4 linked regions of the Homo sapiens genome follow. The protein of the gene in region 1 purifies or fractionates together with the protein of each later gene. This does not show direct contact. Each region holds a gene or a part of one and is shown in the gene's direction. Other genes may lie near its edges.

Region 1 (7,902 bases):
GTGCCCACGTAGGGAGATGTTGGACAGAGAGGTCTCTGCAGCCCTGCAGTTTTTCTCCTAATCTTGACCAAGCGCTGACCTCACAAGACCACAGTGGACTAGGAAGAGTAGCTGAATCAGGTCCCAGAACATGGAGGGCGCTCAGTCAGTGTGTGTAGAATGAGTTAAGGCAGGAAGCGAGGGAGGCAGGATGGGAACATCCTCTCTGGTGCAGAGAGCTTTTATCTTCTACAAGCTCTCTCTCTCTCTCTCTCTTTCTCTCTCTCGCTCTCCCTCTCTCTCTCGCAGTCTCTCTTTTGTTCTCTCCTCCTTATTACAAAAACAATTGTTGCTTGTCCTGGACAGAAAGGCCACCGTATCTGCCACGGCGAGTGCCTTCCAGGTGGTACCTATATGTGTGATGCCCCCATCCCCTGGGCTGGGGCAGGTCAGCTGAGGGGGCTGTTTGATCCAAGGCTGGGCCATCCTCAGCCCACCAGACACCTGTAGAGTAGCCACCATGAAAAGGCACTCTTGGGCACTTAGTCCATCCATAAAGGATTTAAGCCAAGAGATACCAAGATAAAGAAGCAGAGGGCAACGGGCATGGATCTGACCAGATGCCAGGAGGTCAGCCAGGAGTGGAGCCCCAAGGCAGAGAAACGGCAGACGGGAAGCACCTGGGGCGAGTAGAGAGTGGTCAGGCCAGGCTACTGGTGGAAAGCTAGGAGGCTCCAGAAACCTGGCTGCTCCCCAGTTCCTACAGCACAGTCTGTGGGCCTCTTGAGCTGAGATCTCCCCCAAAGTCCACCATTATGTTGCCCTTTCTGTGGCTTTTGTGGCCCTAGGGTTTTCAGAAGTCCCCCATTAAACTGAACATGCTTCTGAGAAAGACTCTATCCTAAACCCCAGCCAGGTGAAGTCTTATTGGGCTTGGGTGGTTTGTGAAAAACTGATGTAAGAGGGAGATGTGAGGGTGTGACCAGAAGAGAGTAGAGAGGCAGCAGTGGAGAGAAAGAGCCAGGAAAGGCAGGAGGAAGCTGTGCTGGCTGACTTTCCCAGAACATGGTAGAGTCTCAACAGATAGCCCCAGCGCACAGTAGGTTCCCAACAGATCATTCATAAATGAATGGAGTGTCTGCCCACAGTGAGCCTGGTACACTTCCTGCCCAGGACCTGAGGGAGGGAGGGCACCTTGATGGCTGATTCATCCCTCCCTCTACCCCAGCCCATCTCAGACGTCCCTGTGGCCCACTACGTTCATCCCCTTCTCCCATGCAGATAGTCCATTCTCTTTTCCTTCGTTTCCGTCCCCCTTAGAACAACCGTCATTACCTGTGGACTGTGTCCAGACTGCTCAAAGATACTCAGTGCTACAGAGTTACTCAGTCCTGCCTGAAGCCCTGCAGACATCCACGGATGAGCTTTCTAAGTGATACACGAGAGAGCTCTCCATGTATTGAGTTTCTCCAGGGCAATCGAATAGGGTTTGACTCTCACGCTGCCTTTCAGATTTAATTCTAACTCTTGCTTAAGCCAGGAGCTGGTGCATCTGTAGCAGAAATGAGTGCCAGCACTCTGTTGCCCCACTGATTCCAGATGCTTCCTTCTCCCTCCAAGACAAGCCCACATCCCAACAAGGTGCCGTCTGGGAAAGCTCCCGGACCATGTGAAGTGGGGCTTGCACAGAACCACTTCAGAGATCCCCAGATGGCCTCAGAGGATTCCAGAAGCAGCAGAATTCCAGAGAAGGTGGGCTCCATCACACCACCCCCAGACAGGGCCGTGCCTAAGCCACAGGGTGGACAAAAGCCTGCAGGTTTGTCACTGCGTCGGGACATTCTTAATGAACAGCCCACACAATGTGGGCTCCACCTCCGCTCACTGTGATTTGTTGTTGTTTGGTTTTTAGCAGAACCCTATGTTACTACCAATCTCTTGATCACCCACATACCTGAAAAATAATGTCTCCCTCTTGCTTTTATCTTCTACAAGGTCTCTCTCTCTCTCTCGCTCTCCCTCTCTCTCTCGCACTCTCTCTTTTGTTCTCTCCTCCTTATTACAAAAACAATTGTTGCTTGTCCTGGACAGAAAGGCCACCGTATCTGCCATGACAAGTGCCTTCCAGGTGGTGCCTACATGTGTGATGTCCCCATCCCCTGGGCTGGGGCAGGTCAGCTGAGAAGGCCGCTTCATCCAAGGCTGGGCCATCCTCAGCCCACCAGACACCTGTAGAGTAGCCACCATGAAAAGGCACTCTTGGGCATTTAGCCCATCCATAAAGGATTTAAGCCAAGAGATACCAAGATAAAGCAGCAGAGGGCAATGGGCATGGATCTGACCAGATGCCAGGAGGTCAGCCAGGAGTGGAGCCCCAAGGCAGAGAAACGGCGGATGGGAGGCACCTGGGGCGAGTAGAGAGTGGTCAGGCCACGCTGCTGGTGGAAAGCTAGGAGGCTCCAGAACCCTGGCTGCTCCCCAGTTCCTACAGCACACAGTCTAATTACCAGAAATACCTGGAGTGTGTTCTGATCCCTTCCAACTCAAATAAGCCTTGAACAGTTTTTTAAAAAGAACTCAGGCCGGGCTCAGTGGCTTACCCCTATAATCCCAGCACTTTGGGAGGCCGAGGCGAGTGGATTGCCTGAGCTCAGGAGTTCAAGACCACTCTGGGCAACATGGTGAAACCCTGTCTCTACTAAAATACAAAAAATTAGCCACGCATGGTGGTGCGCAACTGTAGTCCCAGCTACTCAGGAGGCTGAGGCAGGAGAATTGCTTGAACCCAGGAGGTGGAGGTTGCAGTGAGCTGAGATCATGCCACTGCACTCCAGCCTGGGCTACAGAGTGAGACTCCATCTCAAAAAAACAAAGAAACAAACAAAGAACAACAACAAAAACTCATAATAACAATTGGGAAGTAACATAATACCTAATGGTGGCTGAAACAAGGTTTATGTTTTCAATATAAAAAGAAATCTAGAGAGGAGTGTGCAGGAATTGGTCCAGTGTCTTTGCAGTGCCCATGACCTTTCCCTCAGGGACACAAGATGGCTCAGCAGGTCCAGACAGAAAGAGGCAGAAATGCGGGGCCAGCTGCAGCTGAACCCTTGGTCAACAGACAACAATTTTGCCCAAACCTCCTCAGCCAACTCTGCCCAATCATGGCTGGACCTGGGCACGTGGCCAGCCCCAGCTGCAAGGGAGCTTGGGAAAGTGGGTGCAGGGGACGCTTCGACCCTGGGGTCTCCTCCCCAGGCTTTAATGTGTTTTTCTCCCAGTGGCCTAGCCTGCACCTGGAGCTCTCCTTCAGGGGTCTCTCCACAAGCTCCTGGAGCCATCTTTCCTGCACGTGCGCAAAGCCAGAAATGCATGAGTGACGGACTAATGTGGGGATATGAAGGCCCAGGTCCCCTGCTGGGACTCACTGGGGTGCACTTCACCTGCCAGAGCTCCCAGGAACCAGGCTGAGGCTGGGACTGTGGTGCCTTGTTTGGCTTTCTCCTCAGCCTGGCCCTCTTGCCCACTGTCTTATGGGTCTTCAGTGACTTCACTGCTCTCAGGGGCTGAGACAGAGGGGAGCAAGATTAGCACTATGACTTAGACCAATTATGCTCAATTACCTGGGGTTAACACTTACAAAGCCGGGGTTCTGCTAGCTGGGGAGGAGGGAAAGGATACTCAGCAGGCAACTCACAGTGTCTGCAGCCACAGCTCATTAAAGGAAACAGCAGAAAACACAGCAGAGATATTGGAATCCTCGCCCTGGGCTAGTGAGAATATAAAATGGTTCAGCCACTTTGGAAAATAGCCTGGCAGTTCCTCAAAAAGTTCAATACAGAGTGGCCAGATAGTCCAGAAATTCTACTCCTAGGTATGTACCTGTGAGTAATGCAAACACATGTCCACAAAAAAAACTCATACACAGAGGTTCATAGCTGCTTTGTTCTTAATAGAAGGAAACAGGGACAACCCAAATGTCCATCAACTAGAAATCAAATGGATAAACAAATGTGTTATAGCCACACAATGAAATATTACTCAGCCAGAAAGAAGGAAGAAGTACTGTTACATGTTGCAACAGGGCTGGATCTTGAAGACCCTGTGAATATACTAAAACCCACTGAATTGCACACTTTAAATGTGTGGACGATACAGCATGTGAATTATATCTGTATAAAGCTGTTATACATGTACATAAACAAGCATGTGTACACACACACACACAGGCAAAGAGAAAGGAAAGCACTCTCAATTCCATCCACTCAGAGACAGCCCCTCTTACCATCCCAGGATCAGGATATACTTATAGTTTCTTTTTAATTCACACATATATTTCACCGACATATCCTCTGAAGGTAACCCACTAGAGGGCTTCATGCAAGACAAATTAGCAAGAGTTATAAAACCAATGAATCCAACTTATCAGCAGAATCAACCCTGATACTCTTACCATCAGGCTGAGTGAGACAATCACCTGTCTATTTACTTTGCCCTGATTTGTCACGCAGTTTACTCATCCTGAGGTTCCCCCAATAGGCAGTTCAATTATCCTGCCCCATTTTGTAGCCAAGGCAACTGAGTAGAAGGTTTATTCATACCCATTCTGACCTCTTCCCAGCTCCTAAGCTGGGGTCTTACAGCCTTCAAGGGTGAAGACGCTGGGGGCGGCCGAGAGAGCCCACTGGGGCCTGGACAGAGTGAGCACACCTATCCGATTTAGCCCAGAAACATCTATCCAACTTGGAGACAGAGAGAGAGACATGAAGCACTCAGGAGAACCTGGTAGGTCTCTTTGAAGGGTCCCTGACACTGACTTGCTGCTGTCCATGGAAACAAAGGCCGGGTGGGGGTGGCCGGCCTGTTTGCACTCACAGCATAGCACTTAGTGCAGCCAAGCTGAGCCGCACTGTTCAAACAGTCTCCCCAGCCTCCAGACACCTGTGCCGAGGAGGAGGGCAGGGCAGGCGGCAGCCTGGGCACAGGCCCCTAGGTGCTTACTCCTCACCTGTTTCCCACCTCTCCCCCATAGCCAGCCCCACGGCCCTGGCAGGGTCCTGGCCACAGCATGCCCAGTGCTGGGCTCTGCAGCTGCTGGGGTGGCCGGGTGCTGCCCCTGCTGCTGGCCTATGTCTGCTACCTGCTGCTCGGTGCCACTATCTTCCAGCTGCTAGAGAGGCAGGCGGAGGCTCAGTCCAGGGACCAGTTTCAGTTGGAGAAGCTGCGCTTCCTGGAGAACTACACCTGCCTGGACCAGTGGGCCATGGAGCAGTTTGTGCAGGTGAAGGGGAGCGATGTGGGATTGGGATGGAGAGGCTTGGGAAGGTTGGTGGAATGGGGTTCCTGTGGCAGATCCACAGTCCTCACCCAGGAGCTGATGCCCCATTTGGAAGAAGAGTGTGGTGGGAACAGAGAGCCTGGTGAGATCTAATCCTGGATTCTGGCCCCAGGTCTACAACTGGATTGATGTGTGACCTTGAACAGGTCACTTAACCTCTCTGGACCCAAACAGCCTCATCTATAAGGCAACAAGAATAACCATATCGGTACTGCAGACATTTGACAGCAGATTAAAAGCACTCTCTAAGCTGTCACTTGCTGGATGAATGGGAACTATATGTCAGCGTTATCAACGCTATCCAAATTTCCTCCTCCCACACTTTCATACTTCCCCTTCCCCAACTCCAGGGCTGCAGCTCCTTCTGCCCTCTCCCAGCTCATATCCCTGGGCAGACGGCTGCGGGTGGGAGACACAGATAAATGCCAGGAGCAGCCACCACCAAGCTGTCCTTTCCTGGCCTGTTTGCACCTGGAGTTGGGTTTGGTGGGCAATGGCCAAGGTGACTGAGCTTGCCAGCACTGCACCCAAATGGGGCTCTCTCTTGGTAACAGAGTGGGTCACCCCCTGCCTGGGTCCTTTCTGGTTTCCTCTTTCCCAGAAACAAGACAAAACCAGGTGTTGTGGAGGGAGGTGAATGCATCTGAAATAGGCACTGGAGCGAGTGACAACATCCCCTGCAAAGGAACAGACCAAGTGCCAAATCACCTTGATAACTGGCATTTACTGAGCATTCACAATGTGCCTAAAACAGTGGGAAGCAGGGTGGTCATGACCAGCTTAATCCAATCATGATCCACTCATCACCTGACACTGAGCGTGTTACAGGTGTTTTCTCATAATTACCTATTACAATCCCTATCTCCACTTTGTAGATGGGAACTGAGGTAGAATATGTTGACCAAGGCTGCACAGCTACTGGTAGAGACAGCATTCACTCCCAGGCCTCTGGCTCTGGAGCCCCGGGTCTTCACCACACAAATTAGCATAAGTGCTGGGGGCAGGATGCAACCTGAAGCAGCAGTTCTCAAAGTGTAGTCCCGGGACCAGAATCAGCATCACCTGGGAGCCTGTTAGAACTGGAGATGTCAAGCCCCACTCCGCACCTGCCGACTCAGGAACTCTAGGGATGGGTCCTGCAGGCTGTGTGTCAACAGGCTCTCCAGGTGATGTTGAGGACCCTGAAGACTGAGAACAGCTGGCCTAGAAGATGATGCGTGGGCTGGGTGGTCACAGACAACATTCTGTAGCTGTGAGAGACCAGGAAGTGAGGCCTCCAGCTTCAGGTTTTACTCTCTTCTCCCTGATGGATAAGGTTAGTCAAAGTTGGGGGACCATAGTACCACATCAGGGTTGAGAACAGTTCAGGGGCCTCCCAAAACCCTGGGAGTAAGGCAGAGGCCCTGGAGAAGCTGAAATCTCCTCCCTCAGCTCTGCATTGGAGGTGAGAGCCAAGCTGGAGGGCGTGGGAAGGGTTGGTAGCTGCAACCTAACTCGCTCTGCTAACCAAGACGAAAGGAGGCCATCCGCTTGATTGCAGCCCCGAAGGGATTGCCACTGATTAGCCCCTGGGGCCTCCCCAGGGAAGACAGGACATCCCTTTCCCTGAGAGTCCTCAGCCTCAGGAGAGACCCTTCCTTGCCAGGGGCAGTTGAGCTGGGTGGCAGAAGAACACTGGGGTGAGATTCTGGAAGAAGACACATTCCTGTTGAACTCTCAGACGCACAGGGCGAGTTGAGTAACTAGTATTAAAAGCAGTATTAAACATTGCCTCTGTGACGAAACACTGCTTGCCCAGGTTCACAAAACTGGGAAGTCAGAACCCATGGCCACCTGCATCCGCCCACCGGCACTCAGCACCCTCAGCAGGATGAGGGCTGCAGGCTGGCAGTGGGGGATGGCCCAGGACTAGAGTACTGCCCCCAGAAGTGAGGGTCTCCAGAGAACGAGCATGTTCGGGAATGTTGGGCCCTGGCCACTTTGTGGATGTGGGAAAGAAAGGGAGGCCAAAGTCCACATCTTAAGAGGCCAGTTCCCGTCAAAGTGAGGAGAAGCAGACAGCCTGTGACCGCAGATGCCCTGACTGGCTTGGCCCACCAGGGCCACCCCAGCCCTGATCTAAGCACACCCACCCAGCCAGCGGGAACTGGTTCCCATAGGAATTGGAAGCCAGAACTGTTGTGTCCCTGGCTTCCTCCTGCCTTTGGGGCTCTTCGGTGGCAAGGCTGTGCTGCTGCTCTGAGACAGTCCACAATTAAAGAGGAGAGGGTTGGGGCAGGGGAGGAGAGAGCCCTGCCTATTCTCCAAGGCGGCTGGGCCCAGGGACTGGAGGTTGTCAGCAGTGGGGCAGCGAAGGGAGGTGTTGTAGGCTTGAGCCGGCAAAGGTTCGGGTCTTGTGAAAACACATGCAACACACATACAAACATGCACACATGTGCAACATACAGTTGCCATGCACAACACGTGCATACAACACATCACATATAAACAACCACCACACACACACACACACACACACACACACTCACACGTGCCACCTTTGTCTTGGCCTCTGTTAGAATTTCTCCCATAGGCAAGGGCTGAGG
Region 2 (7,196 bases), on another chromosome or scaffold:
GCAATCAAGGCATCCCAAAGTCATTATGCAAAAGAACATGCAGGAAGGCCACTGAGCAACTCAAGCTTTTTTTTTATTTTATTTTTTTATTTTAATTGAGTAGCTGGGATTACAGGCGCCACCACTCCCGGCTAATTTTTGCATTTTTAGTAGGGACGGGGTTTCACCATGTTGGCCAGGCTGGTCTGGACCTCCTGACCTCAGGTGATCCACCTGCCTTGGCCTCCCAAAATGCTGGGATTACAGGCGTGAACCACCATGCCCAGCCTGGAGCTGGCTCTTAAGGAACAAATAGGGCCGGGCACGGTGGCTCATGCCTGTAATCCCAGCATTTTGGGACGCCAAGGCAGGTGGATCACCTGAGGTCGGGAGTTCGAGACCAGTCTGGCCAACATGATGAAACCCCGTCTCTACTAAAAATACACAAAAATTAGCTGGGCGTGGTGGCACGCGCCTGTAATCCCAGCTACTTGGGAGGCTGAGGCAGGAGAATCGCTTGAACCCGGCAGGCAGAGATTGCAGTGAGCCGAGATCATGCCATTGCATTCCAGCCTGGACAACAGAGCAAGACTCTGTCTCAAATTAAAAAAAAACAAAAAACCCAGCCATTCCACTTGTAGGTATCTACATAAGAACCATGAGAACATATATGTACAGAAACACTTGTGACAAATGTTCATAACAGCATTATGCATAATAGCCAAAGGGCAGAAACAACCCAAATGTCCATCAACTGATGAATAAACAAAATGTATTATGGTATATCTGTACAATGGAATATACGGCAATAAAAAGGAATGAAGTGCTGACACACAGGACATGATGTTGTCACGGATGAACCTTGACAATATCATGCTAGATGAAAGAAGCCAGGCCGGGCACGGTGGCTCATGACTGGGACTCCAGCACTTTGGGAGGCTGAGGCGAGGGATCACTTGAGTGCAGCAGTTCAAGACCAGCTTGGACAACACGGTGAAACCCCATCTCTACAAAAAAATACAAAAATTAGCTGGATGTGGTGGTGCACCCCTGTAGTCCCACCTACTCAGGAGGCTGAGGTGGGAGGATCACTTGAGCTGTGATCATGCTACTGCACTCCAGCCTGGGTGACAGAGCGAGGAAAAAGAAAAGAAGCCAAGTACAAAAGACCGCATATTATATGATGCCATTTATAGGAAATGTCTAGGATAGGCAAATCTATGGAGACAGAAAGTAAATTTGAGGTTGCCTAGAGGCTGGGAAGGAGTTTGGAGGTAATAGTGAAAGGATACAGGGTTTGGGGGTTTTTTTGTTTTGTTTTTTTTTTTGTTTGTTTTTCTTGAGACAGAGTCTCGCTCTGTCACCCAGACTGGAGTGCAGTGGCGCCATCTCGGCTCACTACAACCACTGCCTCCCAGTTTCAAGCGATTCTCCCACCTCAGCCTCCCAAGTAGCTGGGATTATAGGCGCCGGCCACCAGACCCTGCTAATTTTTGTATTTTTAGTAGAGACAGTGTTTTGCCATGTTGGCCAGGCTGGTCTTGAACTCCTGACTTCAGGTGATCCACCTGCCTTGGCCTCCCAAAGTGCTGGGATTATAGGTGTGAGCCACCACGCCCAGCCTGAGTTTGGGGTTTTTTATTTTATTTTATTTTATTTTATTTTATTTTATTTTATTTTATTTTATTTAACGAATTGGGCAGTCTCCTGAGGCACAGTAGGCTCAGAGAGACTCTGCAGGGTTTGTTTTTGAGGTAAGGAAAATGTTATTATCTGTGGTGTTGGTTGCACATATCTCTGGATATACTAGATCTTGAATTGTACACTAAATGGGTGATTTGTATGGTGTGTGAATTATATCTAATAAAGCTGTTACTGGGCCAGGTCTAGTGGCTTACACCTGTAATTCCAGCACTTTGGAAGGCCAAGGTAGGAGGATCGCTGAGACCGGGAGTTCCAGACCAGTCTGGGCAACATAGTAAGACCCCCTGTCTCTACAAAAAAAAAAAAAAAATGTTTTTAATTAGCTGGGTGTGGTGGCACATGCCTGTAGTCCTAGCCACTCAGAGGCTGGGGTAGGAGGATTGCTTGATCCCCGGAGTTCAAGGTTGCAATGAGCTGTGACCAGGCCACTGAACTCCAGCCTGGACAACAGAGCAAGACCCTGTCTTTAAATAAATAATAAAAGCAAATGCAAGATCTCAGCGAGAAAAAACGTGAAAGTGAGGTGAGTTAGCCAGAGTGAGAACAGACCTGTTGAAAGAAGCTCAGCTGTGAAGGGAAGAGAGGTGCTCAGCAAGTAGTAGCTCTCTTCTCAAAGGTATCCAGAGGCAAGTAAGGGGAGAAAGGGAGTGGTTTTAGTGTTTTGAGAGCCTAGGTCAAGAACACACCAGCCTGGGCAACATAGGGAGCTCTCTCGTCTCTACAAAAAATAAAATTAGTTGAGCGTAGTGGTGCGTACCTGTAGTTCCAGTCCCTTGGGAGGCTGAGACAGGAGGATCTCTTGAGCCCAGGAGGTTGAGGTTGCAGTGAGCTATGATCGCACCACTGCACTCCAGCCTGGGCAATAGATCAAGACCCTGTCTCAAAAACAAAAAACAAAAAAAGAGAAGTTTGTAATTTTCCTTGGGATAAAGGCAACAGGCTAACACAGATGGTCACCCAGTAACCAGGTAAAGTTAAGATAAACTATATGTGACTGGCTGGGTGCAGTGGCTCAGGCCTGTAATCCCAGCACTTTGGGAGGCCGAGGCAGGTGGATCACTTGAGGTCAGGAGTTTGAGACCAGCCTGGCCAACATGGTGACATGGTGAAACCCCGTCTCTACTAAAAATACAAAAAATTAGCTGGGTGTGGTGATGCGTGCCTGTAATCCCAGCTACTCGGGAGGCTGAGGCAGGAGAATTGCTTGAATCTGGGAGGCGGAGGTTGCAGTGAGCTAAGATCGTGCCATTGCACTCCAGCCTGGGCAACAAGAATAGAACTCTGCCAAAAAAACAAAAAAAAAGAAGTTTGTAATTTTCCTTGGGATAAAGCCAGCAAGCTAACACAGATGTTCACCTAATAACCATGTAAAGTTAAGATAAACTATGTGACTGGCTGGGTGTGGTGGCTCACACCTGTAATCCCAGCACTTTGGGAGGCCAAGGAGGGTAGATCACTTGAGGTCAAGAGTTTGAGACCAGCCTGGCCAACATGGTGAAACCCCATCTCTACTGAAAATACAAAAATTAGCTGGGCGTGGTGGCACACACCTGTAATCCCAGCTGCTTGGGAGGCTGGGGCAGCAGAATCGCTTGAACCTGGGAAGTGGAGGTTGCAGTGAGCTGAGATTGTGCCACTGCACTCCAGCCTGGGCAACAGAGCAAGACTGTGTCTCAAAAAAAAAAAAAAAAAAAAAAGATAAACTATATGTGACAAGTCCTCTTACTTGAGGACTCGTTATTGTTTATCTTGAAAACGTGTATGTAATGGGTTGTATGCGCTTGGCTATACAAAAAAGTAAGATTTCCTCCCTTCTTTGCAAGCTCTTAGCAGATCACCTGTCATGTACATCACATTGTGGTTGAATGCTTATTCAATAATAAAATTGTTTTCTTTCTCAACTACCTTGAGGGAGAGGATGGGGTTTTTTTTGTTGTTGTTTTTGTTTTGTTTGTTTTTGAGACGGAGTTTCGCTCATTGCCCAGGCTGGAGTACAATGGCGCAATCTCAGCTCACTGCAACCTCCGCCTCCCAAGTTCAAGTGATTCTTCTGCCTCAGCCTCCCAAGTAGCTGGGATTACAGGCATGTGCCACCACATCTGGCTAATTTTGTATTTTTAGTAGAGATGGGGTTTCACCATGTTGGTCAGGCTGGTGTCAAACTCCTGACCTCAGATGATCCACCCGCCTCAGCCTCCCAAAGTGTTGGGAATACAGGCGTGAGCCACCGCGCCCAGCTGAGTTGGGGTTTTAAGAGTTCTTAAGCTTGCCCCTCTCCCAGCTCAAGTGGCTTAATGGCGTTCTTTCCCACACACACCTTTCTGTTCCTTCACCTGCGCAAGTTTGAGGACCATGCTAGTCTGGTCCTAACTGCCCCAACTGCCAGCCTGGGCTAGCACCCGACATGAAGTCCTGTAGGCGACCTGCCCCTTTAAGAGCACCCCCCTCCTTCAGCTCCTCCCTCAGGCCTGGTGGCCGGATTTCCCAGTTGGGGCCCAGCCTTTTAAAGCCATCGCTCCTTCTTTCTGGCCGGATGTGTGCTGAGACCCAGAGTCACCCAGGGGTCTCCGTCACGTGCCAGGAGTAGGCAGAAGTGGGCTGTGACAGGTGCATGTGGGCATGGACCCCACAGCCTGGGGCTCAGGAGGGACAAGGAGCTGGGACAGGGTGGATCCCGAGAGAAAGCAAAGCCACTCGGGAGTGGGCAAGAGATATCGTTACGCAGCTGCTGTGTGCCCGACCGACCCTGTCCGAAACCCTTCCTGTACCTTCCCTTCCTCTTCCTTCTTTTCTCCCTTTTTTTTCTTTTCTTTTTTTTTTTGACAGGGTCTCACTCTGTTGCCCAAGCTGGGGTGCAGTGGCACGATCTTGGCTCACTGTAGCCTTGACATCCTGGGCTCAAGGGATCCTCCCATCTCAGCCTCCCAAGTAGCTGCGACTATGGGTGTGACACCACGCTGGGCTAGTTTTTCAATTTTTTGTAGAGATGGAGTCTCCCTATGTTGCTCAGGCCGGTTGCAAACTCCTGGGCTCAAGTGATTCTCCTGCCTCAGCCTCCCAAAGTGCTGGGATTACAGATGATAGCCACCTCACCCGGCCCACCCCTACCTTCTGAAAGAGGCATTCTTATTCTTATTCCCATTTTGCAGATCAGGAAACAGAGCTCAGTGCAGCCCACTAAATTGCTCAGGGCCCTACAGCTAACAAGCGGCAGAGGCAGGATCTGCACTCAGGTCAGTGGGACTCCAAAGCTTTGATAGTCTCTCCTTTGCATCACCTGCCCCACAGGGTCCTGCCTTCTTCCCAATTTCATTTTTCCTCGGTTTTCCTGTATGCAGTAGAGCGTGGGAGGAGAAATGGATAATTGCTGCATGCCCCCATATCTCGGTTCCTTCCTCTTCCCAGGAGCTGCTTGGAGATGCTGCTGTGGCCACTGCTGCTGCTGCTGCTGCTGCTGCCAACATTGGCCCTGCTCAGGCAGCAGCGGTCCCAGGATGCCAGGCTGTCCTGGCTTGCTGGCCTCCAGCACCGAGTGGCATGGGGGGCCCTGGTCTGGGCAGCCACCTGGCAGCGGCGGAGGCTGGAGCAGAGCACGCTCCATGTGCACCAGAGCCAGCAGCAGGCCCTGAGGTGGTGTCTACAGGGAGCCCAGCGCCCCCACTGTTCCCTCAGAAGGAGCACAGGTGTGTTTCCCAGGGTCTGGGGAGGTGACCCAAAGAGAAAGAAACCCCACAGGACCGTCAGATTCCAGAGCCTGATGGCCCCCTTACCTCCTCCACTGCCAACGGAGTGGCCTGACCCAGAGACCCAGGACTGGCTTTCTTGTCCAAGATGAATTTCCCATGCTGGGTCCTTACATCCTCTCTACCCCAGGCCTATTCTCGGTTCCTCCCTCAAGGGTCTCACCAGTCTTGCCTGAAACTCTTGGGAAACTGGCTTCCTGAGGCGTTTCTGTTGTCATTGGGGCTATAGACATAAGCACCTTCCGGAATCATCTCCCTCTGACCAAGGCCAGCCAGACCCAGCAGGAAGACAGTGGAGAGCAGCCACTGCCCCCGACCTCAAACCAGGACCTTGGGGAGGCCTCTCTGCAGGTAATCTAGGATGGCCAGAGCCCAGTCCTGGCCACAGCCCAGTCCCACCAGAGACCTCTGACTTGCAGCCAAACCCTCCAGTCATGGTGGGCAAAGAACCCCCAAATGGGGGCTCTGGGTCTGGCTCTGACACCAGACCAACATTCTCTCTTTCCTCCTCCAGGCCACCTTGCTGGGTCTGGCAGCCCTAAACAAGGCCTACCCAGAAGTGCTGGCTCAGGGACGCACTGCCCGTGTGACGCTTACATCCCCTTGGCCCCGACCCCTGCCTTGGCCTGGGAATACCCTGGGCCAGGTGGGCACCCCTGGAACCAAGGACCCTAGGGCCCTGCTGCTGGACGCACTGAGGTCCCCAGGGCTGAGGGCACTGGAGGCTGGGACGGCTGTCGAACTTCTGGATGTTTTCTTGGGCCTGGAGACTGATGGTGAAGAGCTAGCTGGGGCGATAGCTGCCGGGAACCCTGGAGCGCCTCTCCGTGAACGGGCAGCTGAGCTCCGGGAGGCCCTAGAGCAGGGGCCACGGGGACTGGCCCTTCGGCTCTGGCCAAAGCTGCAGGTGGTGGTGACTCTGGATGCAGGAGGCCAGGCCGAGGCTGTGGCTGCCCTCGGGGCCTTGTGGTGCCAAGGACTAGCCTTCTTCTCTCCTGCTTATGCTGCCTCGGGAGGTCAGTGGGACTCAAGGGCAGTGAGGTGGGGGCAACGGTCAGTGGTCACATGACAAGCAGCCATGCATTGGGCCCTACATAATCATCTCATTTAATCCTCCCCAACAAGCTGCATGCTAGGGCCAGCAGCCTCCTTTTACAAGTGAAGAAATTCAGGCTCTCTAGGTTAAGAGTCTTGTAGCTGGGTGCAGTGGCTCACGCCTGTAATCCCAGCACTTTGGGAGGCCAAGGTGGATGGATCGTTGAGGTCAGGAGTTCCAGACCAGCCTGGCCAACATGGCGAAACCCCATCTCTACTAAAAATACAAAAACTAGCGGAGTATGGTGGTGCACGCCTATAATCCCAGCTACCTGGGAGGCTGAGGCGGGAGGATTGCTTAAACCTTGGAGGCAGAAATTATAGTGAGCTGAGATCGCGCCATTGCACTCCAGCCTGGGTGACAGAGCAAGACCCTGTCTCAAAAAAAAAAAAAAAAAAAAAAGGCCGGGGCAGTGGCTCACGGGTGTAATCCCAGCACTTTGGGAGAGGCTGAGGTGGGTGGATCACCTGAAGTTAGGAGTTTAAGACCAGCCTGGCCAATGTGGTGAAACCCTGTCTCTACTAAAAATACAAAAATTAGCCAGGTGTGGTGGCAGGCGCCTGTAATCTCAGCTACTCAGGAGGCTCAGGCAGGAGAATCACTTGAACCCAGGAATCACTGAATCACTGAGCCGAGATCGCACCACTGCACTCCAGCCTAGGTGACAGAGCGAG
Region 3 (7,711 bases), on another chromosome or scaffold:
GCACATACCACCATGCCTGGCTAATTTTTTTTTTTGTAGTTTTAGTAGAGACGGGTTTCACCATTCTGGCCAGGCTGGTCTTGAACTCCTCTCCTCGTGATCCACATGCCTTGGCCTCCCAAAGTGCTGGGATTAAAGGCATAAACCACCATGCCCAACCCATTCTGTTAAGAGTAGGAAAATCAGTGTAGATTTATCTGCACTTAGGGAAATGTTTGTCTTCCCTTACCTGAATTTGCATTGTCCCAGCACTGAAAAATGTTTGTCCTTGGAGAGTGTGTGTGCGCTTGGTTCAGTAAGTTACCAGAAAACTATAAGAAGAATGAAGATGAACATTTTCTTTGCATACTGTTGTAGAGACTTGAGGGACCTAGACTTGAGGTGCCAAATGGGACCGTTTTCCTGAACCACCTCCTACGGAAAAAATCAGATTTATTATGTTTTGCATAATTGTGTCTTATGAATTGCTCTGCTGGTGAAAGGTAGAGTTGGGGTTTGGAGTGTTGTGGGGTGGGCTGTGGATGCCAGAGGGAGACCAATCCCTGTGGGTAGGCATTACAGTTTTCCTGCAAGGGAATGGGACTTTTTTTTTTTTTAATGGGGAGGGATTAAAGAAAGCCCATTCACTGAGGAGCAGCAGAGAGGTAAACTTCAGACAGGACAACTGCTCTGTGTCTATGAAGGGAACCTGAAACCGCCTTTGCAAAATTATGACTGAGACAATGAAAGAGATTTAACTTAACCAACTCCATCTTGCTTATTTTTTTATTTTTATTTTTATTGAGACAGAGTCTCACTGTGTTGCCCAGGCTGGAGTGCAGTGGTGCTATCTCGGCTCACTGCAACCTCTGCCTCCCAGGTTCAAGTGATTCTCCTGCCTCAGCCTCCTCAGTAGCTGGTATTACAGGCGCCCACCACCACGCCCAGCTAATTTTTGTATTTTTAGAAGAGATGGGGTTTCCCCATGTTGGCCAGGCTGGTTTCAAACTCCTGACCTCAAATGATCCACCCACCTCGGCCTCCCAAAATGTTGAGATTACAGGTGTGAGCCACCATGCCCAGCCAGACTCCATCTTGCTTCTAACCTCCAAGCTGTCTTTGTTCATTCCTGGGTGTAGGCTGAACGAACTTTGGGAGAAACTAACTTAGTTTGTAGTTTATAGTTTAAACAAAGACAGTAACAGCCCTTTCTCAAAACAGGCCTCCTTCTTGCCTGGGAACTATACTAACATTAGCCACAGGATTAAAAATTATGACTTAGGAGTCATGCAGCTGGAGGCTGTAAGATTCTGACCCTCCCTAAACTGCTCTTAAGATCAGTGTTTGAGATATTTTGCAGACCCTGCACTTGATGGATCAGCTGGCACCACCGACTAATAAACTGGCTTATCTGATGTTGTGGCCTCCACTCAGGAACTGACTGAAGGCAGGAAGACAGCTTCAACTCCCTGTGATTTCACCCCTGACCAATCACCACACCTGGCTCACTGGCTACCCCCCAACTCCCACCCACCAAGTTATCCTTAAAAACTCTGCTCTCCAAATGCTCAGGGAGACTGATTTGAGTAATAAAACTCCAGTCTCCCACACAGCTGGCTCTGCGTGAATTACTTTATTGCAACTCCCCTGCCTTGATGAATTGGCTCTGTCTAGGCAGCAGGCAAGGTGAACCCCTTGGGTGGTTACATTAGGACTTAAAATAATAAATTATTAAGAACCCTAGAGAGTCATTTTTTTAAATGGATTATATCTATCAAAACTTACAGTATTACAAATTAAAATAAATGAAAATGTTTATTGAAAATAATTATTTACATAAATAATGTCATTTCATGAATATAGCTATATTTTCTTTTTTTTTTTTTTCGAGACGGTGTCTTGCTCTGTCACTCAGGCTGGAGTGCAGTGGCACAATCTCGGCTCACTGCAACCTCCACCTTGCGAGTTCAAGCGATTCTCCTGCCTCAGCCTCCTGAGTAGCTGGGATTACAGGCACGCGCCACCATGCCTGGCTAATTTTTGTATTTTTAGTAGAGATGGTGTTTCACCATGTTGGTCAGGCTGGTCTCAAACTCCTGAACTTGTGATCTACCCACCAGGGCCTCCCAAAGTGGTGGGATTACAGGAGTAAGCCACCGCACCCGGCCTATAGCTATATTTTCAAAAATAAAATATTAGTGAGAAGAATGGCATAGTTTTAGATTTTTGTAAATCTCTTTTACACCTGGCTTAATAGAAGACTGTTGGGTTCTTTTTTCTTTTTTAATTTTTTATTTCCATAGGGTTTTAAGAAATGTGGTATTTGGTTACATGAGTAAGTTCTTTAGTGGTGATTTGTGAGATTTTGGTGCAACCATCGCCGAGTAGTATACACTGAACCCAATTTGTAATCTTTTATCCCTCACCCCCTTCCACCCTTTCCCTGAGTCCCCATAGTCCATTGTGTCATTCTTATGCCTTTGCATCCTCATAGCTTAGCTCTCACTTAGGAGTGAGAACATATGATGTTTTGTTTTCCATTCCTGAGTTACTTCACTTAGAATAATAGTCTTCAATCCCATCCAGGTTGCTGAAAATGCCATTCATTCATTCCTTTTTGTGACCACGTAGCATTCCATTCCATATATAAATATATAAATATATATTTATATATATCACAGTTTCTTTCTTTTTTTTTTTTTTTTTTTTGAGACAGAGTTTTGCTCTTGTTGCCCAGGCTGGAGTACAGTGACGCAATCTCGGCTCACTGCAACCTTTGCCTCCCAGGTTCAAGTGATTCTCCTGCCTCAGCCTCCCGAGTAGCTGGGATTAAAGGCGTCTGCCACCACGTCCGGCTAATATTTTGTATTTTTAGTAGAGACGAGGTTTCATCATGTTGGTGAGGCTGGTCTCGAACTCTTGACCTCAGGTGATCCTCCCGCCTCGGCCTCCCAAAGTGCAGGGATTACAGGCGTGAGCCACCGCGACTGGACGGAAGAAACGGTGAAACTTTTAAGGTGGTAGAATTATAGGATCTGATGACTGATTAGATGAAGCATGGAGAGGGCAACAGTGTGCACAGTGATGCCTTTTCTTCACAGGCATTATAGGAGGGACAGGTTGGTAGGAGGAGGCAACGGGTTTAGTTTTGGATTTACTGACCGGGGATGAGTGTTAGCTCTCTAGGTAGAGGTGTTCCGCAGGCAACTGGTGTTGCGGGACAAATCATAGACGGGAGAGACCGAGCAGAGTTCAGGAGAGCCTTTATTATTAAGGTGATCACCGGCTCAGTCGGACTAGGGTCCAGAAAGTCTGAGCCCCGAACAAAGGGATCAATCACCTTTTAAGCAGTTTGTGTTGGGAGTTACGTGTTGCATGAAGTGTACTTGCAGAAGCAAGAACAAAGGCAGTAAATTACTCTTACATTTGTTACACCATATGTCTTACGTCCTTGGGAATACATGCTTTTGTAACACTTGCTAATCAGTTTTGTGACTTTACAGCAGCGCTAGGGAGGGAAGCAAGAACTCGCTGTGCCTCAAGGAATGTGAAACGATGGAACACAGATAAGCCTCTCCACGCATAGGGGAGAAATAAGCAGTTAATATACTCTTAACCCAGGCCTTGGGTAGGGGAGGTGCTATATTACATTCTACCTCAAAGGAAAAGAATATACTTCTTGATTAGTATACTTATAAAATTCATTAATTTCCCTTTCACTGGATATTCCTACTAATTCCCCCAGGGCCTTGCAGTTTTGTCTCATTCGCTGCTCTATCCCCTAGCTTAGCACAAAACCTAGTTCTTAACATTGATTAAATAAATGAATCCGGTCAGGTGCTCCCGTGGGTGATCTGGAAGGAGTTAAATTTGGTAGTCATGGGAGACGCTTCTGTGAAGCCATAGGAGCGAAGATTGATTGTGGCGGCAGGACTGAACTCAGCTTCTGAATCTTTCTAGCCGCTAAACCTACAGACTAAGTGGCGTCCTTGGGGAATGCTGCCTCAAACGGCTCGCGACGTCCTAAAACATGTACATTTATTTTGGAAAATCTGTTTTCGTAAAACCTAGCATACTTAATCACCAACATTTGTTAACTTCATGGTGGCATATTAATACCTGTCAGGTTGATTTTAGTTGGAGTGGGACGGGGCTGACCTCACCGTCCTACCCTTCGGTATGAGGCCGGCGTCTTCACGACCTCGCTTTTCACAACCCCAGTCCCCGAGGGCTTATTTGGGGCTGTCGGAGTCCCCAAGACGTGGCCCCGGAGAAGGGTGAGGTGCCACAGTTCGAGGTGCCCCAGTACCCTGCGTCCGGACAGGGGGCGGTGCTCACGCCCAAGGCCCCGCTGACGCGATGTAGGCCGAGATCACCTCAGGCGCTCGCGGTGCAATCACAGAGCGCGCCGTCGCCGCTCGAGCTCGCCCTGAGATCCCTCCGCTCAGCGCCTTCAACGCCGTGTCCCGGCACCCCGCACCCGGGCACACAAAAAACGGGTCGCCCGCGATTCTCAGGGATTGATCGCCTCTTCAGGTAAGTTATCTTCCGGCCCCGTACCACTGTGCCACAGGCGCAGCCCGCTTCCTCAGGTGCCCTATCCCGCGCAAGAAGACCACGGCTTCACAGAGTGTTATTTAAGGGGCGTGGCCAGCGGAACATCCCGCCCCATTCTGTGACGCACGGGGTGGCGCGCGTGGGACCCGAGGGGTGGGGCTGGGTTTAGTAGGAGACCTGGGGCAAGGCCCCCTGTGGACGACCATCTGCCAGCTTCTCTCGTTCCGTCGATTGGGAGGAGCGGTGGCGACCTCGGCCTTCAGTGTTTCCGACGGAGTGAATGGCGGCGGCGGCTGGGATGCTGCTGCTGGGCTTGCTGCAGGCGGGTGGGTCGGTGCTGGGCCAGGCGATGGAGAAGGTGACAGGCGGCAACCTCTTGTCCATGCTGCTGATCGCCTGCGCCTTCACCCTCAGCCTGGTCTACCTGATCCGTCTGGCCGCCGGCCACCTGGTCCAGCTGCCCGCAGGGGTGGTACGTACATTCTTTAGGGTCTGAGTGGGGCGCGCGCCGCAGCTGAGGCGGCCGAAGGGCTGGCGTGGGCGGCTCCGTGGCCCCGACCGGCTCAGTGGATGGCAAGGGCGGGGGCGACTGCGGCCATGCTTGGCGTGGCTTTGGTGGCAGGCGCGCTGGGGGCTGGAGTAGTGGCTGCGGCGGCGGCACTGCTGCTGGTGGCGCTGGCTGTAGCACCCGCCATTGCCTTGTGTTGGGGGGCGGTGCTGGCCTCCCCGGCTGTGTATCTGATCCTAGACGGGGTCGTGGTTGCGGCATTTGTGGTTGTAGCGGTCTGTACTGACCGCAGCAGTGGTGCCCCTAGTGGCGGTGGCTGGATTGGCGGCTGTGGGTTTGAACGACCCGGTGGTCGTTGGGGCCCTTGGTGGGGGTCCTGACGGAGATGCTGTTGGCAGCTGGCCCGTCATCCTGGAGGCTGCCCTGTGTGGTTCAGTGTTCTGTGGGCTGTAGCAGTGCCCCTAATGGTGGTTTATACCCATATTAAGGAGGATGTGTAGAGTGTGGTAATGGTAGTGACTGGAGTGTGGTAAGGGCCTTCCTCTGATGCTAATAATGTAACAGTTTCTCGGCCGGGAGCAGTGGCTCACGCCTGTAATCCCAGCACTTCGGGAGGCCGAAGCGGGCGGATCACCTGAGGTCAGGAGTTCCAGACCAGCCTGAACAACATGGAGAAACCCCATCTCTACTAAAATACAACAAAACAAAACAAAAATTAGCTGGATGTGGTGGCACACGCCTGTAGTCCCAGCTGCTTGGGAAGCTGAGGCCCGAGAATCACTTGAACCTAGGAGGCGGAGGTTGCAGTAAACCGAGATTGCGCCACTGGACTCCAGTCTGGGCGACAGAATGAGACTCCGTCTCAAAAAAAAAAAAAATCATTTTCTTCAATTTAACAGCCTTATTAACCTAGCTTTCAATCTCCCAAATGTTATTTGATTGTGCCTTTTACAGTCAGCAATAAGTAGCTTTTGAAAACTACCCTTTTACTGACAATGCAATGTACAAACTTTTGACCAAGTAGCTTTTAAAATAATTTTTGTTTGAACCATACCAGGCATAAGAAAGAGTTATTTATTTATTTATTTTTTTCCTACACATGGGATCTTTAAGGAAATGATATTTGTCTCTGGGAAGACAAAGTTACTTTTAGTGTTTAAAGATAGTTCTATTAGCTGAGGTGTACTGTGAGGTTGTGGTGCTCCTTTCTATTTGAGACCACCAGAGAATTGAGGAGTATTACCCTTTTTCATTATTTTGTTTGATTTTCAGGATACTTAATGTTGTAATCTGCAGGTCTCATTTTGTGGCATCTAAAGAAACTTTTATGAAGAATGCTAGAGTTCTTGCTAGAGCTGATCTACTCTCTTAAAAACTCTAAAATCAGTGGCTCTAGTTCACTTGCAGTGAGAGAAGCATGAGATTGATTGTTTACTGAGAAGTAAATATAGCTTCTTAAACATTTCCCTTCTTTCTATACTACAAGTTACTGCTTGTCTTTTTCTATACCTTCTTTAAGCAAGTATCTGGGACTAAAATTGTGAGTAGTAGTAGTAGTAAGTAGTGAAGAAACAATATAGTGGGCCCTCTGGGGACACGAATTCCACATTTGGGAATTCAGCCAAGTGTAGATCTAAAATACCCAGGGGAAAAAAACCCAATACAAAATAACACAACAATAAAAAATAATACAAATAAAAAAACACAGTTTAATAACAGTTTATATAGCCTTTACATTGTATTGGGTATTGTAAGTAATATAGAAATGGTTTAAGGTATATGAGAGGATGTGCATAGGTTATACGCAAATACTTTGCCATTTTATATAAGGGACTTGAGGATCCCTGGATACAAATCTGTGAGGGGGTCCTGGGACCAGTTCTCCACAAATGCCAAGGGACAAGTGTAGTTTGACCTTTTTGGTTTTTTGCTACTAATGGTTAGAAAAGTTGCCTGGAGACACCAATAATAATTGGACATATTCTGGACAGTGTCCATCATTTAAATTTACAGTGCCTTAGTGTTTATCTGGTCGTTTATCTTATACCGTGTTTTGAGTTTCTGTTCTTTTCTACAATAGCTACTCTCTTGAGGTATTTGCAATTTGGCTGTTCTCAAGTTACTTCTGATGCTTCCTTTTTTTTTGGTAACTTTTTTTTGAAGTCTTAATAGCTATTTTGTTTAATTGTTTGGTCATGAAACGAAACTGGGTTTCTCTCTTGAAATGAAACACGAATTGAATTTACTATTTTTTTCTCTTGTAGAAAAGTCCTCCATACATTTTCTCCCCAATTCCATTCCTTGGGCATGCCATAGCATTTGGGAAAAGTCCAATTGAATTTCTAGAAAATGCATATGAGAAGGTAAGTCTTCCAAATAATTAGAGGAAAAAAAAAAAAACAACTAGAGAAGTGCTTTTTAAACTTTTTTAAAAAAGTGGCAGAACATTTAAAAACATTGTAATCATATACATATCCTCAGTATAGGAAACAAAATGGAAACTGCTCTGGTTTAAGAGATGGTGTCTTATAGATACCTATCCTTTTAGCTTTTCCCATGTCCTGGGGTCGTCTTTGAGACACCATTGAGGAAACCTGTAGTTCTGGCAACTATGGTTTAAAAGCCACTGTTCTGAGTTTTCTATTCACTTATTGTCATTAAAATTGA
Region 4 (7,378 bases), on another chromosome or scaffold:
TGGCACAATCTCGGCTCACTGCAACCTCTGTCTCCTGGGTTCAAGTGATTCTACTGTCTCAGCCTCCCAAGTAGCTGGGATTACAGGCGCCCGCCACCACGTCCAGCTAATTTTTGTATTTTTAGTAGAGACGGGGTTTCACCATGTTGGCCAGGCTGGTCTGGAACTCCTGACCTCAGGTGATCCACCCACCTCGGCCTCCCAAAGTGCTGGGCCTACAGGTGTGAGCCACCACACCTGGCCTGTCAAAGGTTTTACATATTGTTATTTCAGAGAACCAGCTTTTGGTTTTATGAATCCTCTCTTCTGTATTTTGTATTCTATTTTGTCAATTTCTGCTCTTTAGCATTTTTTCTTCACATTTTTCCTTGTCTGCTGAGTTGTTGTTCCTTTATTAACTTCTTGATGAAATGCTGAGCTACTTATTTTCCAGTCTTCTTCTCTAATATAACCAGTTAAGCTTATATATTCTCCTTTAGCTTCTGTTAAAACTCCATCAGTTTCGGGCCAGGCTCTGTGGCTCACCCTGTAATCCCAGCACTTTGGGAGGCTGAGACAGGTGGATCACTTGATGTCAGGAGTTCAAGACCAGCCTGACCAACATGGTGAAACCTTGTCTCTACTAAAAATACAAAAATTAGCTGGGCATGGTGGCCTGCTCCTGTAATCCCAGCTACTTGGGAGGCTGAGGCAGGAGAATCGCTTGAACCCAGGAGGCAGAGGCTGCAGTGAGCCAAGATCCTGCCACTGCACTCCAGCCTGGGCGACAGAGAGAGACCCTGTCTCAAAAAACAAAACAAGATGAAACAAAAAAGACCCAAACAAACCAAAAAGCTCCTCAAGTTTTGGAATGTATTTCCATGACCATTCCATTTTACATTTGTGTCCATCAATTTCCTCTTTTCCATCCTGCTCTCTGCCCCGGGGCTGCCTGTGGGAACTACAAGGGGCTTCTTGCTGTGCCCTCTGTCTTCCATTTGGGTTCAGCCATTGGGGATTCCTGGCAGGAGACAGAAGAGGAGATCGAGGTCAGGGTATCTATGTCCCTGAGCTCCTCTCTGAGATTGCCTCAAGCTGCTTATTTATGTCCCTTGACAGAAGGTCATTGCTTCTTGCATGGTGGTTTGCTCTGCAAAAAAATCTCACTTGGGATTTCTCTAACTTCTCTCTGTTCTCATCTCTTTGGACGTATGGGTTGTGACAGTTCTACTGTTACTAGTATGAGATCCTCCACTGTTCCTTGTGATTTCCACATATCTTACCCAGGCTGGAGTGCAGTGGTGTCATCATGGCTCACTGCAGCCTCGACCACCTGGGCCCAAGTGATCCTCCCGCCTCAGCCTCCAGAGTAGGTGGGACTACAAGCTTGCACCACCGCACCTGGCTAATTAAACTTTTTTTTTCTTTTTTCAGAGATAGGGTCTCCCTATGTTGCCTAGGCTGGTCTCAAGCTCCTGGGCTCAAGTGATCCTCCTGTCTTGGCCTCCCAAAGTGCTGGGATTACAGGCATGAGCCACGACACCCATCCTTCATATTCATATTCTTTTTTTTTTTTTTTTTTTTTTTTTTTGAGACGGAGTCTCACTCTGTTGCCCAGGCTGGAGTGCAGTAGCTCATTCTTGGCTCACTGCAAACTTCACCTCCCGGGCTCAAGCGATTCTCCTGCTTCAGCCACACGAGTAGCTGGGATTACAGGCACGCACCATCACGCCCAGCTAATTTTGTATTTTTAGTAAAGATGGTGTTTCACCATGTTGGTCAGGCGGGTTTGGAGCTCCTGACCTCAGGTGATCCCCAGCCTCGGCCTCCCAAAGTGCTGGGATTACAGGTGTGAGCCACCGCAACTGGTCAGTCCTTCATATTCTTTAATAATCCAAAAAAGCTTTTCAAGGTTGTATTATTCATTACTTCTTTATTTATTTTTCCCAGTTCCCTGGTTATCCATGGAAACTGTCTCATTTTCTTCCCTTCTTTCCCCCCCTCCCCCCGACCATGGAATCTTTTTGGCCACCTGTCTAATTTTCTTTTATCTTATTTTTTAATTTCTAAAAAAATGCCTTCTGGAGTTGTGGATGCCACAGACTTTATCACCTTTTCCTGCACTGTTAATCAAAATCATATCATTAAATCTGAATTATAAGATTTTGGAAATAAACCTGATAAACCTGCAGAGCTCATTACTGGCCTCTCCATCTGATGGAGGTACAGTAATCACTGTGTTTAGTTTTTGTAGTTAATGGTGTTATACCATTTTACGTGGAGCTTGATTTTGCATGGCTGGCTAGTGACTCAGCCTTTAGGATGAAGGGAGACAGAGGTAACACTTTCTTGATTTGGCTTTCTTCCCTTGCCTGTTTTTGCACCTCTGCATCAAATGTGAAGGAATCAGCTGCCGAAATTTATGACTGATCCCTGCCCTTCCTCAGCCCATCTAGAGAACTGCAGCAACCTGGAAGGCAGTGCCAGGACCAATCTGTCATTTAACTTAAAATACATTTTTTTTTTTGAGACGGAGTCTTGCTCTGTCACCCAGGCTGGAGCACAGTGGCATGATCTCGGCTCACTGCAACCTCTGCCTCCCGGGTTCAAGTGATTCTCCTGCCTCAGCCTCCCAAGTAGCTGGGATTACAGGTGCCCGCGCCACCACAGCAGCTAATTTTTGTATTTTTAGTAGAGATGGGGTTTCGCCATGTTGACCAGGCTGGTCTGGAACTCCTGACCTCGGGCGATCCGCCCGCCTCGGCCTCCCAAAGTGCTGGGATTACTGGAGTCTGCTTTCTTTTACATCAATCATATCTTCTTGAAACTACAGCCCGACTGGGTGTGGTGGCTCACGCCTGTAATCCCAACACTTTGGGAGGCCGAGGCGGGTGGATCACTTGAGGTCAGTAGTTTGAGACTAGCCTGCTCAACATGGTGAAACCTCGTCTCTATTAAAAATACAAAAATTAGCCAGGCGTGGTGGCGTGTGCCTGTAATCCCAGCTACTTGGGAGGCTGAGGCAGGAGAATCGCTTGAACCCGGGAGGCGGAGCTTTCAGTAAACTGAGATTGCACCACTGCACTCCAGCCTGGGCGACAGAGCGAGACTCCCTGTCAAACAAAACAAAACAAAAAACTATACCCCTTGATTTGACATGGCTCTTTCTTAATTCTCCCCAATAGCATGTTTACTCTTAGGATGTGTCAATTCTTCAGACAGCTCATCCCATCTTTTATTGGGCCATTTTCCTATGAAGATGCAAAATATGTGGGTGGAGGTTGGAAGGTGGGAGGCTAAAACAAACGGAATCACTTGGAATCTCTTTTAACTTTATGGGCAAGGTGGGGGATTATTGGATTTGAGCGCACCCCACTCATGTAACTGTTTTGCAAAATACTTAAAATTATTCAAGGAACACACGAATATCTTTTTTTTTTTTTTTTTTTTGAGATGGATTCTTGATATATTTCCCAGTCTGGTCTCGAACTCCTTGCCTCAAGCGATTCTCCCACCTCGGCCTTCCAAAGTGCTGGGATTACAGTCATGAGCCACCGCGCCCGGCCAATAATGTTTGTTTAAAAATAAAAAGATAAATAAGAAACTCGAAGTAAGGTCCGCTTTGACCATCGTCCCGATCGTTCTCTTCTCTGGAGGTAACCGTTACCAGCGTTTTGAGCACACTTTTCCAGTCTCCTTTCTATATGTTTTCTTTCCTCTACTGCATATACAGAGTTTCTTTTTATACAAATGACGCCTCTTGGGGTCTCATTAAGACCCTAACGGGAGACGTGATGGCCAATTTATTTAAGGAAAGCAGACTAAACAATCGTTTATGAAAACCTACTGGGTGGCAACCCCGCGCTAAGTGCTTTCTTTGGCATGAAGGGTTCTGGTATTTCACTCGTCGCAATCGGTTAGCTAAGCCATTAGTTTAGAGGCTGGGGGGCGAGTACGGGGAGAGTCGCTTCAAAGCGAGGAGGTAGGGTTTGCATTTTGATGGGACCTGCAGGAAACCTAATAGAGTGCGGTACAACCGCAAAACAGAAAAATGCTGTCATCGGCAGTTGGCTCTGTCAATAAAGCTTGCGAAGCTGAAATGCGAAGAACTATCTGCCGAGACCGAAGCTTCCTTCGGAATCTAGGAATCGACACCGCGCCTGCGAGGCTAGCCTTGGAGCCCGGAGAGGAAGGCACCAGCAATGGCAAAAAGGATGCACTGAGCAGGCAGCAACCGAGCAGCCAACCCGAGAGCTGGGAGCGCGCGGGCCCGGTCGGAAAATGCGCCTGCGCAGACCGCTGGGGACGGGAGGGGCGGGGCTCGAGGGGCGGTCAATGCGCCTGCGCACACCGCACGGCGAAGTGGGGGAGGGCAGTCCGTGTGTGTCTGTGTTGTTGTTCGGCGGCGGCGGCGGCGGTAAGATGGCTGCCCACGGGGGCTCCGCGGCGTCCTCGGCGCTGAAGGGGTTAATTCAACAGTTCACCACCATTACCGGTAAGAGACGCGGTTACCGGAAGGTGGAGAGTGGGGTCCGGAGCGGGCAGCGGGTCTGCCCCGGGCTTCCCCTTACCTTCAGGCATTCCTCCTTCGGGCTTTACCCACAGCTGCCGTCCTCCCTCCTGAGGAAGAGGCGACGACGGCGTCGGGGTCTCCGGGTTCAGGCGGGAGACAGCCCCCCCCCGCTCCCGATACCCTCGTTCTCTGTCTCCTAGTAGCGTGGAGGGAGATCCCCCAACCCCCCGCCAGCCCAGACCTGGGAATGGGCCGAGTCCGTCCGCCCCCGCCGGCCCGGGGACCCGGGGGCGGGAGGAGTAGGGGGCCGCACCCGGGCCACCGCCCTCCTCCTCCTCCTTCATCATCTTCCCTTCTCTGTGCAGCCCTGCGGTGCGGTGCATCTCCTCACCTCCTTTTTTCCTTTCTTCCCCGGCCAGGTCATTCTGCCCCGGTCCCCGGCCTGCCCTTCCCCTTTCTGGGCCCCTCGGAGCCATCGCCGTGGCCCTGGCGGGTTCGGGCCCTCCCGCCTTCACGGCAAGGCCGGTGGGTTCGGCCGTGCCTTTACACTTCACGGGGGACAGGCCGCCAGAAGCGGGGGGTGCTGAGGAGGACCTCAGGGACTGAGGCTTTGAGGGAAGAATGAGGGGGAACCCCCAAGCTGAATAGGGGAGGCCTGGAAGAATCCAGGGTGGCGTTTCCCACCTCCCCATAATAAAATCATAAAGACGGAGACGATGGCGCCGGGGCCTCCTGCTGATAAGATAGGGATGGCGGCAGAAACTTCTTTGAGAGAAAATCTGTTTCTGGGTGTCGGTATCCCCGAAACCCTAGGCCTAGGTTCTCTCCCTTTGGACCCCTGCGAAGGACACACGCAGATCCTCTTACCGCCTGGAGGAAAGGCCCTAAAGCCATTCTATGAATTCTCTCTGTCTTGTTTCTCTCTGATGGTGCTGAACTTTTCTTGCATGAGTTATTAGAGGGCGGAGCAAATGATGAAGTTCTCTGTGGAGTGATTTGAGAGAAGAGTACTCCAATGTGCCTGAGTGTAATTTTGCCGTTCTAGTTTGTCGTTTTGGAAGGAGGTCAGAATGTTAGTTCCCTCTCAACGGATCTATACTTTATCTCGTAATTTGTTAGATGCGGAGAATGTTTCCACTGTTAATGTTCCTAGAGTTTAACGTGCAATATCTGGTTAAGTAAAATTTTATATTGTTTTAACTACTACAGGTTGTATACTAGTTACCGTTTTATATTAAAGCAAGTTTTATTTTTTTGCTTTGCAATGATAACGAGATATTTGACGCATTGTTATCTAGCTTGTGGGCATGGAACATCAGGTCAAAGTAAAGTAAAATTTGCAATAAAATTGGGGTGAGGAGTTGCATGATAACTTCTCTTAATATTTTTGAACTTTGTGATTGGATTATTGAAGATATAAAGGATTGGATTATTATATTAAATATGTAAAGGATTTCCTAATGTCTGACAAATCATTGCTATGGAGAAGATTATTGTGTATATAAGTTAGTGTTGCTGCATTATGCTTATATAGAAAAATCTTTGCAGTGAATCTGATAGAGAAGTGAATATCATTATTAATCCTTTAGATTTCCTAGAGATGGTTTATGATGCCACTTGGGCCTGGCGCGGTGTCTCACGCCTGTAATCCTAGCAGTTTGGGAGACGGAGGCTGGAGATTCACATGGGGCGAGGAGTTGCAGACCAGCCTGGGCAAAACATAGTGAGGCCCCATCTCTACAGAAATAAGAAAATGAGCTGGATGTAGTGGCACCGACATGTAGTCCCAGCTACTGGGGAGGCTGAGGTGGGAGGATTGCTTGAGCCTAGGAGTTCAAGGCTGCGGTGAGTAGATCATACCACTGCGCTCCATCCCTGGCAACAGAGCAAGATCATTTCTCAAAAAGAAAAAAAAAGCCACTTATTATTATTATTATTATTATTATTTTGAGACAGTCTCGCTGTGTTGCCCAGGTTGGAGTGCAGATCTCCCAGGCACGATCTTGGCTCACTGCAACCTCCACCTCCCGGGTTCAAGCGATTCTCCTGTCTCAGCCTCCCGAGTAGCTGGGACTACAAGCGCCTGTCACCAGGCCCGGCTAATTTTTGTATTTTTAGTAGAGGCGGGGTTTCATCATGTTGGCCTGGCTGGTCTTGAACTCCTGTCCTCAAATGATCCACTCACCTCAGCCTCCCAAAGTGCTAGGATTACAGGCGTGAGCCACCGCGCCTGGCCCTAAAAGCCACTTAATTAATTTTCAGTTTCTTATGCTAATTACTACTCTTCCCAAACTCTGATTGGTTTAACGCCACATTACTTCTTCTGTTGCAACATTTTTATTAGGTACACACAAAAACCGAAGTGTGGTGAGTTGAATTGACTCACTTAATTGCTTTAATTCTGTTTCTGTTCGTCTACGTAGCTTGATTGCTGGATCAAGTTGGAGTCCCTCAATCAGTAGACAGTGGTATCTGGAGATCTACAGAGCGAAAATACCTTTGAGTGTTCTTCAAATATTGTGAATTTCTATTGATAATTTTTGGGATTCTTTTTACAAGATAGTGATTAACCGTTAGAAACACATGATTGATTTCTTTTTGCCTTTTTTACATGTCTTAAAATTTTTTTGGGGTTCTCTCCACATACGTTTTAATCGTAGTGTTTATAATTAAAAGGTATTTTATATTTATTTTAGTGACCTTAATAGCTTATGCTCTGATTTCACAAAGGTTTTACTTGGAAGCTCAATATTCTTGTAAAAACAAATGCATCATCAAAAATGTGAGTCCTTACTTTTTAGGCAGGAGCAAAAAAAAGAAAAAGAAAAAATAAAAATAAATGTGAGTCTTATCTTTTTTTGGCATTTAGAAATAGAACGGAAAATT

Evidence for each region.
Region 2: the proteins of KCNK16 (region 1) and GHDC purify together in Homo sapiens (affinity purification with mass spectrometry; 3 studies listed by BioGRID and IntAct, with this or other methods). This does not show direct contact.
Region 3: the proteins of KCNK16 (region 1) and CYP51A1 purify together in Homo sapiens (affinity purification with mass spectrometry; 3 studies listed by BioGRID and IntAct, with this or other methods). This does not show direct contact.
Region 4: the proteins of KCNK16 (region 1) and UBXN7 purify together in Homo sapiens (affinity purification with mass spectrometry; 3 studies listed by BioGRID and IntAct, with this or other methods). This does not show direct contact.

What each region holds. Positions count from the first base shown.
Region 1 is NC_000006.12:39,319,686-39,327,587, reverse strand, and holds the start of KCNK16 (potassium channel subfamily K member 16), read left to right. Parts: upstream 1-4,885; 5' UTR 4,886-5,047; coding exon 5,048-5,260; intron 5,261-7,902. UniProt on the Homo sapiens protein: K(+) channel that conducts voltage-dependent outward rectifying currents upon membrane depolarization. Voltage sensing is coupled to K(+) electrochemical gradient in an 'ion flux gating' mode where outward but not inward ion flow opens the gate.
Region 2 is NC_000017.11:42,191,487-42,198,682, reverse strand, and holds the start of GHDC (GH3 domain-containing protein isoform 1 precursor), read left to right. Parts: upstream 1-4,188; 5' UTR 4,189-4,290; intron 4,291-4,832; 5' UTR 4,833-4,916; intron 4,917-5,088; 5' UTR 5,089-5,101; coding exon 5,102-5,366; intron 5,367-5,655; coding exon 5,656-5,777; intron 5,778-5,940; coding exon 5,941-6,442; intron 6,443-7,196.
Region 3 is NC_000007.14:92,131,470-92,139,180, reverse strand, and holds the start of CYP51A1 (lanosterol 14-alpha demethylase), read left to right. Parts: upstream 1-4,703; 5' UTR 4,704-4,816; coding exon 4,817-5,008; intron 5,009-7,308; coding exon 7,309-7,407; intron 7,408-7,711. UniProt on the Homo sapiens protein: Sterol 14alpha-demethylase that plays a critical role in the cholesterol biosynthesis pathway, being cholesterol the major sterol component in mammalian membranes as well as a precursor for bile acid and steroid hormone synthesis.
Region 4 is NC_000003.12:196,429,423-196,436,800, reverse strand, and holds the start of UBXN7 (UBX domain-containing protein 7), read left to right. Parts: upstream 1-4,373; 5' UTR 4,374-4,401; coding exon 4,402-4,474; exon of another isoform or gene 4,475-4,599; intron 4,600-5,359; exon of another isoform or gene 5,360-5,416; intron 5,417-7,378. UniProt on the Homo sapiens protein: Ubiquitin-binding adapter that links a subset of NEDD8-associated cullin ring ligases (CRLs) to the segregase VCP/p97, to regulate turnover of their ubiquitination substrates.